Linked DNA regions of Homo sapiens: region 2 is linked to region 1. Evidence: fine-mapped expression QTL. Tissue or cell type: lung. Region 1 holds a variant in brackets; the other region holds the start of a gene. All regions are shown on one strand. Distances are between the middles of the regions.

Region 1 (5,548 bases):
TTGAGTAGGCATGACAGAAATCGTGTGGCCCAAAAAGCCTAAAATATTTATGATCTGGCCCTTCAGAAAACGTTCTCCGGCTTGTGATCTAAAGTGCACTGGAAGTACATTCTTTGTGGGTTTCCAAGTAGCTTGTACACCAAGGTTAGCTGATTATAACAATGTGTTGTTTAACGATCCTTTATCATATTAAAGTTGAATTAATAAGGCAAAATCAGTATTTAAACATAAGAATTATATATTCAAGCTTCAAACTTGAGGAAATGCCACTTTGACTTTTTTTTTTTTTTTTAAGATGGAGTCTCACTCTGTCACCAGGCTGGAGTGCAGTGGTGCAATCTCGGCTCACTGCAACCTACACCTCCTGGGTTCAAGCGATTCTCCTGCCTCAGCCTCCCAAGTAGCTGGAACTACAGGCGCGTGCCACCACACCCAGCTAATTTTTGTATTTTTAGTAGAGACAGGGTTTCACCATGTTGGCCAGGATGATCTCGATTTCTTGACCTCATGATCCGCCCGCCTCAGCCTCCCAGTGTGCTGGGATTACAGGTGTGAGACACTGCACCCAGCCCTGACTATGTTTTCTAAATGAGATGCTGGTGAACTAAAGAGTTTCTTAGTTTACCTTTTGTTTCCTAAAAAATGAAATTATGGGGAAAATAATAAAACTTATAGGATAAAAATTAGTAATACTGGTAATCTCTGGAGAGAGAAACTAGAAGGGGTGGGGGCAAGAGTATAAAGGAGACTTTATTAAATTCCCTTTTGTGCCTTTCAGAATTGGATCTGGGATTCAAACATATGGGATAAGTTTGCTATCATTTTCCCCATAATTTCATGTTTTAGGAAATAAAAGATACAATTGTTACTCCTCAGAATGTTTTGTCTTATGCTGTTGTTAGATAGTTTGAATTAAGTCTTCTCTGTCCTCAACACACATGATGGTTGTCGTCTTGCTCTGAGAATCAAAGTTCACAATCCTTGCTCATCTAGGTGGGAACCTGCTCGTGCTGGTGGATCAGCACGCTGCCCATGAGCGTATACGTCTGGAGCAGCTTATCATTGGTAAGGATCTGTTTGCAGCCAGAAAAAATTTGAGACTCCCAGCAGAATCAGTACACCTCAAAGAGCTTTTCTAACTGCAACTGTTGTGAGAAAGCACACTTTGTACTGTATGTTCAAAAATTAAACTAAAGTCCTGCAGTTTGGCCTGTGTTATAATTGAAAGAATGTGGTAGTTCACTAATTGAAAGATGTGAACTTATTTATGTGGTCAGAGGCATATTTGCCAGATGTTATTAACAACCCAGAAGTACGCAAGGATAGGCTGCTTACTCTGACATCCAGCACAAAGCTCTGCCCCTCCATATGCCCGGTGATCTTGGCATGCCTTCCCACACTCCATCAGGCAGAGACCAGTGGCAGCTCAGAAGGCCCAGTATGCTGTTTTGATTTTAAAATTTAGTTTGCTTTTGAATATGCAGTATAATCAAATAGATCCAATTCTGAAAGGCACAAAAGGGAATATAATAAAGTCTCCTTTCTATCCTTGTCCCCACCCCTCCTAGTTTCTCTCCCCAGAGACAACCAATATCTCTGGTTTTTAAATCTATCTTTCCAAAGCAATATATGCTTTTTAAATGTTTTTTTTTGCTACCCTTTTCCTCATCATGAGGCAGTGTGTTCACCAAGTGGTAAAATACCAGGAAAGTCTTTACTCCTGTGGCCAATGAGTAATGTCAAAGAGTTAGGCAAGGACCTAAGGAGTGCTTCATGGACTAGAATGGCAATGATATTACTACTGTTTTCACTTTTCCTTATAAAATGACGGCCTAAGAGTTGGGAAAGATATAGTAAAAACAGTGTTAGAAAAACTTACCTCTACAGGCCCTGCACCATTTGAGAATAGTACTAATTCTCTCCAGAGACTGGGAGACCCTGCTCAAGGAAAGGGAAGCCTTCTGGAGCCATAAGACTGTGTGGTCAACCCACATATGTTCCTGGTAATCCACATTATTCACCTCTGTCATCAAAACAACATTTATTAACTACAGGAACATTGGCTTGTTCATCTGAATGTAAGATGCAAGTCTTATATTTCTTATTTTGAAAAATACTACCAAAATTGTTAATAGGCTGAATATTTATTAGTTTGACTTTAAAAATGGAAATCCAAAATCTAAAACTGAACATTAAACATTCTGCTTTGCATTAGAATGATTATCTCAAGGCCGTGCTTTATTTTTATCTGAATCTAGAAGACTTCCCTTCCTACTCTTAACCCATTCATCTTTCTGCCAATAGATTCCTACGAGAAGCAACAGGCACAAGGCTCTGGTCGGAAAAAATTACTGTCTTCTACTCTAATTCCTCCGCTAGAGATAACAGTGACAGAGGAACAAAGGAGACTCTTATGGTCAGTACCACCATGAGAATGTGATGTTGATGGTATCAATTCTCACAATAATTCTGTGAGGAATAAGCATAACTATTGTTCCATTTCTCAGATGAGACCAAGAGAGGTTACAAGACTTGTCTAAGGTCATAGCAGTTATTAAGTAGTGGAGCAGGCACTCAAAGGCAGGTCGTCTGACTCCACAGGCTGTTTGTTTCCTTTTTTAAAATATATTTTTTTCTGCATCCAATCATCCATTAAAATATTTATTTTGTGAGACATGGTCTCACTCTGTTGTCCAGGCTGGAGTGCAGTGGCACAATCTCTGCTCACTGCAACCTCCACCTTCCAGGCTCAAGCAGTCCTCCCACTTCAGCCTCCCAAGTACCTGGAACTACAGGTGAGCACCACCATGCTGGACTAATTTTTGTAATTTTTTGGTAGAGATGGGTTTTCGCCATGTTACCCAGGCTGGTCTGAACTCCTAGGCTCAAGCGATCCTCCCACTTTGGCCTCCCAAAGTGCTGGGATTACAGGCGTGAGCCACTGGACCCAGCCTATTCTTTCCACTGTATCCCAGCTGAAGAGTATAGGATAGAGTTTCCCTGATAATTTTTTCCAGCAGTTGGCTTAGAACACTCTTCTCATTTCTTGGAACAGTCTGTGTTTATGCCATGCTTTGTGAAAGCAAAGTTTCTGCAGTAATTGGTCCCATTCTGCTTTGCTTTGGTGCATTCTAGACTCTTAGTTTTCATTATCGTAATCATAATGGGAAGAAAGTAAAACATTGGGATGTAAGGAAGGGGC[G/A]AATCATATAGTGAGTCACAAGATAGGATATTTTTCCTCTTCTAGGCAGCACAAATTATTGAAAATGAAAAAGAAATTTCTCCCAATATGTTTCAGGTTTGGGAATATGATACTGCCAGTAAATCTTTTTTTCCCTATGACATAATTTATATTAGAGGCAGATCTATTTACTTACATCCCGTTAGTCAGGACTTCTCAATTCCTTGGGCTGTTAATTACCTCCCTGCTTTAATGCTGATTCAAATCACTCTCAGACCTTTTCTTCATGCCAGACTCCCTTAAGTGCCAGCAGCCAGAAGTTAGCAGTTCCTCAATGAAGAAAACACACTTAGAAACAAGACTTAGACACAGATTGATTCCCAATGGAAAAGAGAAAAACAATAAAGGTTACTGTAATTCAAAAAGGAAATTTGATAATAAAAAATCCCAAACACCCACACATAAGTGTGAGAAAAACAATACGGTTGTTAAGCCCTGTGGCAGCTTTTGAAAAACTATTAAGTAGTATTTGGAACCAGTAGTGAAGTGCAAATGAAGTAGCACTCTTTTTTTTTTTAACATTTGAGGTTATCTCTTTAGGTGTTACCACAAAAATCTGGAAGATCTGGGCCTTGAATTTGTATTTCCAGACACTAGTGATTCTCTGGTCCTTGTGGGAAAAGTACCACTATGTTTTGTGGAAAGAGAAGCCAATGAACTTCGGAGAGGAAGATCTACTGTGACCAAGAGTATTGTGGAGGTAAGACACAGCTGCAGATGTTAAGGAAATTGCTGAGTGATGGTAACCTCATATTTTGTCTGTAGATTCTCTGAATTCATCTTTTCTTCAACAAGTATTCATGGTATTTACCTGCGGTGTGCCAGGAGCTAGAAATTCAGAGATGAGTTAGCTCAAAATAAGGAAGAAGGGCATTTAAAGAATTATAGTCAGTGAACTTTGGCTAGTAGAGGTATGTGTTTTGCTTTCTTCCCAGTGATAAAGGTAATGAAAACTAAGAGTCTAGAATGCACCAAGATAGTTTTTCAGAAGTGTTATGGAAACACAGAATGACTTGTGTGCCTGGGGAGGTGAAGTCAATGAAAATGTCACAGAAAAGCTGTTTTCTTAAGAAAAGTTTTTACTTTTGAGAGACCAGGTCTCACTCTGTTGCCCAAGCTGGAGTGCAGTGGTGCAATCATAGCTCACTGTAGCCTTGATCTCCTGGGCACAAGCAATCTTCCTGCCTCAGCCTCCCAAGTAACTCGGACTACAGACACGCACCACCATGCCTGGCTAATTTTTTCCTTTTTTTTTTTTGTAGAGATGGGGGCCTCACTATGTTGCCCAGGCTGGTCCTGAACTTCTGGCCTCAAGCAATCCCCTTGCATTGGCTTCCCAAACCCCCGGCACTACAGGCATGAGCCACTGCACACAGCCAGAAAAGTCTTACAGAATAGTGGGAAACTAGGCTGGGCAAGGTGGCTCACACCTGTAATGCCAGCACTTTGGGAGGCCGTGGTGGGTGGTTCACCTGAGGTCGGGAGTTCGAGACCAGCCTGACAAGCATGGAAAAACCCCATCTCTACTAAAAATAGAAAATTAGCCGGGCGTGGTGGTGCATGCCTATAATCCCAGCTACTCAGGAGGCTGAGGCAGGAGAATGGCTTGAACCTGGGAGGCGGAGGTTGCATTGAGCCAAGATTGCACCATTGTACTCCAGCCTGGGCAACAAGAGTGAAACTCTGTCTCAAAAAAAAAAAGAAAAAAAGAATAGTGGGAAAGTGCTGAGTACAGAAGAGGGGAGAAGGGCATTCTAGACAGAGGAATACATATCAGAGACTTGAGATACATCCTATGTTTAGGGAACTATCAATAGATATGGCTCAAATTAAGATCTACAGTTGATCCTTGGATAACTTGGGTCTGAACTGCGCAGGTACACTTAAATGCAGATTTTCTTTCACCTCTGCCATTCCTGAGACAGCAAGACCAACCTTTCCTCTTCTTCCTCCTCCTTAGCCTATTCAATGTGAAAATGATGAGGGTGAAGACCTTTATGATGATTCATTTCCACTTAATGAATAATAAATATATTTTCTGTTTCTTATGATTTTCTTAACATTTTCTTTTTCTTTCTTTCTTTCTTTCTTTCTTTTTTTTTTTTTTTTGCGATGCCCAGGCTGGAGTGCAATGGCACAATCTCAGCTCACTGCAACCTCCACCTCCCGGGTTAAAGCGATTCTCCTACCTCAGCCTCCCAAGTAGCTGGGATTACAGGCGCACACCACCATGCCCCGGCTAATTTTTGTATTTTTAGTAGAGATGGGGTCTCACCATGTTGGCCAAGCTGGTATTGAACTCCTGAC
Region 2 (5,548 bases), 29 kb after region 1:
CACTATTTATGAATGTTCACAGGACGAACACCTTGAAAATTCACTTAATGTTTTACTTGATCTTCTCAGTGTCTCAAAGTCTTGCTTATCAATTCAAGGTTGGAATGGCCCTACCCATCTCTCGTTTATTTCTTCTTCATTTTTCATTTTTCTTAGTAGCAACTCCAGCAGTCTCCTTACCTGGCAGAAAGGAGCACACTCTGCTACAATGACATGGAATTTCCTCTTTCGGGCAGCCTCTTTGAGGAAGGCCTCTACTGTTCGGGAGAAGCCAATGGTCATGATCACCTCATTGGAGTGAATGTGCTCCAGAGCCTGGGCTGCAATGTTCTCCATTGTCCCTTCTGTAAGAACGGTTTTGCAAAAAAAAAAAAAAAAAAAAAAAAAAAAATATATATATATATATATATATATGAAATTGCTATATCACAAACACACATTACGCGTATACGGAAAAAGATGTCTGCCCTTCACATGCACTGCCCACCTAGCAGACCCTGGTACCACAGGGTTAATGTGCTTAAAGTGAAATGTCACAATTTCTTTTTTTTTAATAGAGACAGGGTCCCACTATGTTGCCCAGGCTGGTTTTGAACTCCTGGTCTCAAGCAATCCACTCACCTTGGCCTCCCAAAGTTGTGGGATTACAGGTGTGAGCCACCATGCCCAGCTATGTCACAATTTCTTAAAAGCCCCACTCCTCTGGGATTTTCTGCCTGCCCTCTTCCAGAAGTACCCCTACCTATGAACCACCTCTGTCACTACAGAGCTCCTTACAACTGATTTTGAAGACAGTAGATTCAGCCAAGGAATGGCAATCTGGGAAATCCTAAAGTGCTGAGAATAGGGTAAAGAGAGCTTCGGCCTAAAAGAAGTCTTCCTCCAAAAGGTGGCCACAACACTTCTACATGAGAGAGACTGGCCAGAGAAGAAAAAATGGGGGAGCAATTTGGAAGCAGCTTCTTCATCCTCTGATTACAATGAATATCTGCAAGTCACTTGGACCGCAATGACAAGGGGGATAGAAATGGTATACGTGTACGTGTGTATAAAAATTCAGATAGTGAAGGAGGTCTATCGACCTTGGCTCTCTAGGGAGTTCATTTTGTTTCTTTACAATGAAAATAAAACTCTGTCCTAATAGAGTCTGTTCCACTCCACAGATCTGTAGTCTATCAAGGGTTGGTCTGTAAGGAAAAGTAGAGAGGATTACTTTGGTCCTGTCACCTGTTGCAACATTTCCTAATCAGGAAGGAGGACAAACCTCTGAGAACCAGAAGACAGCTAATCTCCCATCTCTGCTAATGAACAACCTTCAGAGGCTTCTGTTCCCTTATGTGCCTGTGACCAGTCCCATTTTCCCAGCGATCAGGCCTCTTACCCAGCTCCACTAGCAGCTCATTAATCGCCTCAATGATGTTGGACTGGAGTTGGGCATAATGGAAGCTGAAATCCTCGTTTAGGCCTCCGGATGTCAACAGTTTGTGCAGGGACTCCTGCTGATCACTCTCGTCGCTGCGTCCATGGAGTCTATAGAGGCAACAAGACCCAAAGAGAGAGGTGGGGAGGAGTGGTCAGGCAGGTAACAAGGGCTGTTCAGCTCCAATAAAGTCTCCGAGCAGGTAGAGGGGCCCGTGCAAAAAGTGTCACTGGATCCAACCAGGAGCCCAGGACGTGAGCCTGACCTGCCATACTCCTCCCGGATAATCTTGAGCACTCTCCGCACCATGTTGCCCACGGTGGTCTCGGAGGGCTGAGCGGCCGTCATCCTCCTGCCCTCTCTGCGGATCAGCTCCATCAGCTCCCCTACAGTCCAAAAGAGAGAGGATAAGAGGAGCCAACGCGAAGTGAGGCCTGGGAAATTTTCAGCCCTGGGATCGGGAACAGACAGGGGCCAGGTTCGCCGGCGGAGGCAGGCCGGCCTCACCCGCGTTGCTCCAGCGGTGGTCCGTGATGATCTGGCGCAGCAACCCTAGGGTCTCCCGAGCCATTTCCTCGGAGCTGCGCGGCCCACCACCCCGCTTCAGGGTCTCCACGAAGCTCTCGATCCTCTCTGACAACTCCGAGCCCTTCGCTGCGGATCCCGGCATCTTTAAGGTAGCTGCCTTCAGCCTTCACCGGCGGAATCCACACCTGCCAGACCACACAGTTTGCACTTCCGGGGCGGGCGAGGTCGGCTTCCGCTGTGAGGGGATGGGGGGAAACCTCAAGTTTGAGTGGAAGCCGGCTACGCCCTTCGTTGCCGATCTCCCGCCCCCTTCCTCTGCCTGAGCCAATCAGAGACGTGGGGCTCGGGTTGTTCAGTTATAACCGGGCGTCCGCGCGCCCCCGCGCCTCGGGGGCTGGAGGATCGGAAGCGGCCTTTCTTGGCTCAGCCGACGGTGAACGGAAGTAACCCGTCAGGCCTGTAGAGGGTGGCTGGTCCCGTTGCTATGGGAGCAGCAAGTCTCTACGCGCCCCTCACCGCGACTTAAGGCTACACTGAAGAAGTTGCGGCACTCCCTCCTGTCTTCCCAGCTCGGTGACTGCCCGAGCTGTCACTCCCGAGTGTCAGCTGACACTGACGCTCTGAATGCATGTCCAGGGTCGGCTGCCCCTTGGGCAGACGTCTCACTTTTGTTCTGTTACATTGCTTGGTACCGTTTGCGCCTGTGTCTAGGAGGTTCATGTCTCTGAAAACAAGGACGATATCTTTTGTTGCTTTTGTATTCTCAAGGCCTAACACGTCTAACAGAAGACGGCGAAATTAGAGATGAGGAAGATTAAGGAGATTCAAAGTGGGAGCCAATACAGAAGCAAAGATGACATCCTCTGATTTGGACAGAATTGTCCTCCTACAGAGAGGCCAGAGAGTATAACATAATACCAAGAGTTACCATTTACTTAAAGCTTACTGGTTCTTGGGCACTGTGTGTGAATTGTCTCAGTTAATAAGGTCTGAAATAGGTCCTCTTATCCCCATTTTACAGATTGGGAAACAGACCCACAGAATTTAAGCAGTTAATAAAGGATTGGGTTCATACTTAAATCCAGGTCTACCTGAACCCAAAGTATGTGTGTAATAGAAATCTCTATTTCCTTAAGATAAATTCTTCAAAGTGGAATCCATAGGCGAGCACATTTTAGACTTTTGTTACAATTAACAAATTGCCCTCCAAAAAGATTATGTCAATACCAAAGTTAGCCAAAGGTAGTACAAAGAAAAGAAAATTACAGATTAATATCTCTCATGAACATAGAAGCAAAAATTGCAACAAATTATTAGCACATCAAATCCTGCAATACATAAAAAAAGAATAATATGTAATTACAAAGTGAAACATAAACCTGGAATGCAAAGCTGATTAAACACTTAAAAATCAATGTAATATGCCATATTAACAATCTGAGAAGTAAAACCACATGATCATGTCAATTGATGCAGGAAGAAACATTTGACAAAATTCAATATTCATGGTACAAACTCTCAGAAAACTAGAACAAAAGGGAACTTCCTGAACTCGATAAAGGGTATCTACAAAATCCTACACCTAAAAATCATACTTCACAGTAAAAGATTGCTTTCTCCCTAAGATCAGGACAAGGCAAGGATGTCTACTTTCACCACTCCTATTTAAATTATACGTGAAGTCCTAGCCCTTGCAATAAGGCAAGAAAAAGAAAAAGCATACAGAATGGAAAGAAACTGTCCCTGTTCACAGAAGACATGATAGTGTACACAGAAAATCCCAGAGTCAACAGCAACAAAAACAAAACCTCCTAGAACATAAGTTTAGCAAGGATACAAAAACTATATTTCTATGTATTAGCAATGAGCATCAGAAATTGAAGTTGAAAATACAGTTGCTCTAAAAAGCCATAAAATATGTGTCAATTTTGCTGTGTTTTAGTTTTTATTTATTGATTTGTTTGTTTATTTTGAGACAGGGTCTCACACTGTTGCCCAGGCTGGAGTGCAGTGGCATGCTCACTGCTCACTGCAGCCTCAACCTCCCCTGGCTCAAATAATCCTCCCACCTCAGCCTTTTGAGTAGCTGGGACTACAGGCACACACCACCATGCCTGGCTAATTGTGTGTTAATTTTTAAATGTCTTTAAAATTGTATCAATTTACATGCTGGCTAGCATTTACCATATTATAGCCAATTTTGGATATTGTCGTTATTTTTTCATATATCAAGTCATTAAGAAAATAAGGTATATAGGCCAGGCATAGTGGCTCATGCCTGTAATCCCAGCACTTGGGGAGGCCAAGGTGGGCAGATCACCTGAAAGTCAGGAGTTTGGGACCAGCCTGGCCAACGTGGGTAAACCCTGTCTCTACTGAAAATACAAAAATTAGTGGGGGGTGGTGGCATATGTCTGTAGTCCCAGCTACTAGGGAGGCTGAGGCAGGAGAATAGCTTGAACCTGGGAGGTGGAGGTTGCAGTGAGCTGAGATTGTGTCACTGCACTCCAGCCTGGGTGACAGAGCAAGACTGTGTCTCAAAAACAAACAACAACAACAGCAACAAAAAAAACAAGGTATATAGTATTTTATATATACTAAAGAATTTATATGTGTGTGTATGCAAGTTATAAAGCATGACGACAAACAGGTTGAGGAATGTGAACCAATCCCTCACTTTGAAACTAAAATATTCGAATTAATAGAGATAGAAAGCAAAGCTGTGTTGGCCAGGCACAGTAGCTCACACCCGAATCCCAGCACTTTGGGAGGACAAGGTGGGAGGATGGCTTGAGCCCAAGAGTTGAAACCAGCCCTGGCAACATATCAAGACCCCCAGCTGTACAAAAAATTTAAAAATTAGCTAGGTGTGGTAATGCATGTCTGTAGTCCCAACTACTTGGGAGGCTGAGGGGGGAGGATCTCTTGAGCCTGGGAGGTCGAGGCTGCAGTGAGCTATGTATGATCCTGCAGTGAGCTATGATCCTGCCACTGCACCCCAGCTTGGGCAGCAGGGCAAGACCCTGTCTCAAAAAAGATAAAGGAAAGAAAGAAAGTAGAACTGTGATTGCCAGGGTCTGAGGGGAGGGAGAGAGTTGCTGTTTAATGGCTACAGAGTTTTAGTTTTGCAAGTTGAGAAGAGTTCTAGAGATAGATGGTGGATAATGGTTGTGCATTTATTTATTTATTTATTTATTTATTTTTTGAGACAGGGTCTCACTCTGTCACCCAGGCTGGAGTGCAGTGGCACGATCTCAGCTCACTGCAAGCTCCGCCTCCCAGGTTCACGCCATTCTCCTGCCTCAGCCTCCCCAGTAGCTGGGACTACAGGTGCCTGCCACCACGCCCGGCTAATTTTTTTGTATTTTTAGTAGAGACGGGGTTTCACCATGTTAGCCAGGATGGTCTCTATCTGACCTCGTGATCCGCCTGCCTCGGCCTCCCAAAGTGCTGGGATTACAGGCGTGAGCCACTGCACCCGGCCTGGTTGTGCATTTATATTTCACAACAATGTGAATGTACTTCATGCCAGTTTAGTTTCACTAAACTGTACACTTAAAAAGGTTAAGATGGTAAAATTTATGTTCCGTGTTATTTTAC

What was found. PIP is the estimated chance that this variant, and not a neighbour inherited with it, causes the effect.
Region 2: it holds the start of EIF2B2, and the variant in region 1 is fine-mapped to the expression of EIF2B2 in lung (TOPMed, PIP 0.90).

What each region holds. Positions count from the first base shown.
Region 1 is chr14:75,028,936-75,034,483 of GRCh38, reverse strand. It overlaps MLH3 (mutL homolog 3), which reads left to right. Exons shown (of 13, transcript NM_001040108.2): 7 at 994-1,065; 8 at 2,305-2,416; 9 at 3,782-3,941. Among named protein-coding and RNA genes, the nearest start is that of MLH3, 20 kb to the left of the region's middle. The variant G/A (reference allele first, on the strand shown) is at 3,203.
Region 2 is chr14:74,999,533-75,005,080 of GRCh38, reverse strand. EIF2B2 (eukaryotic translation initiation factor 2B subunit beta) reads right to left here and starts at 2,160. Exons shown (of 8, transcript NM_014239.4): 1 at 1,928-2,160; 2 at 1,686-1,806; 3 at 1,382-1,530; 4 at 181-344. The coding sequence starts at 2,090. RefSeq lists enhancers at 1,802-2,482, 2,524-2,613.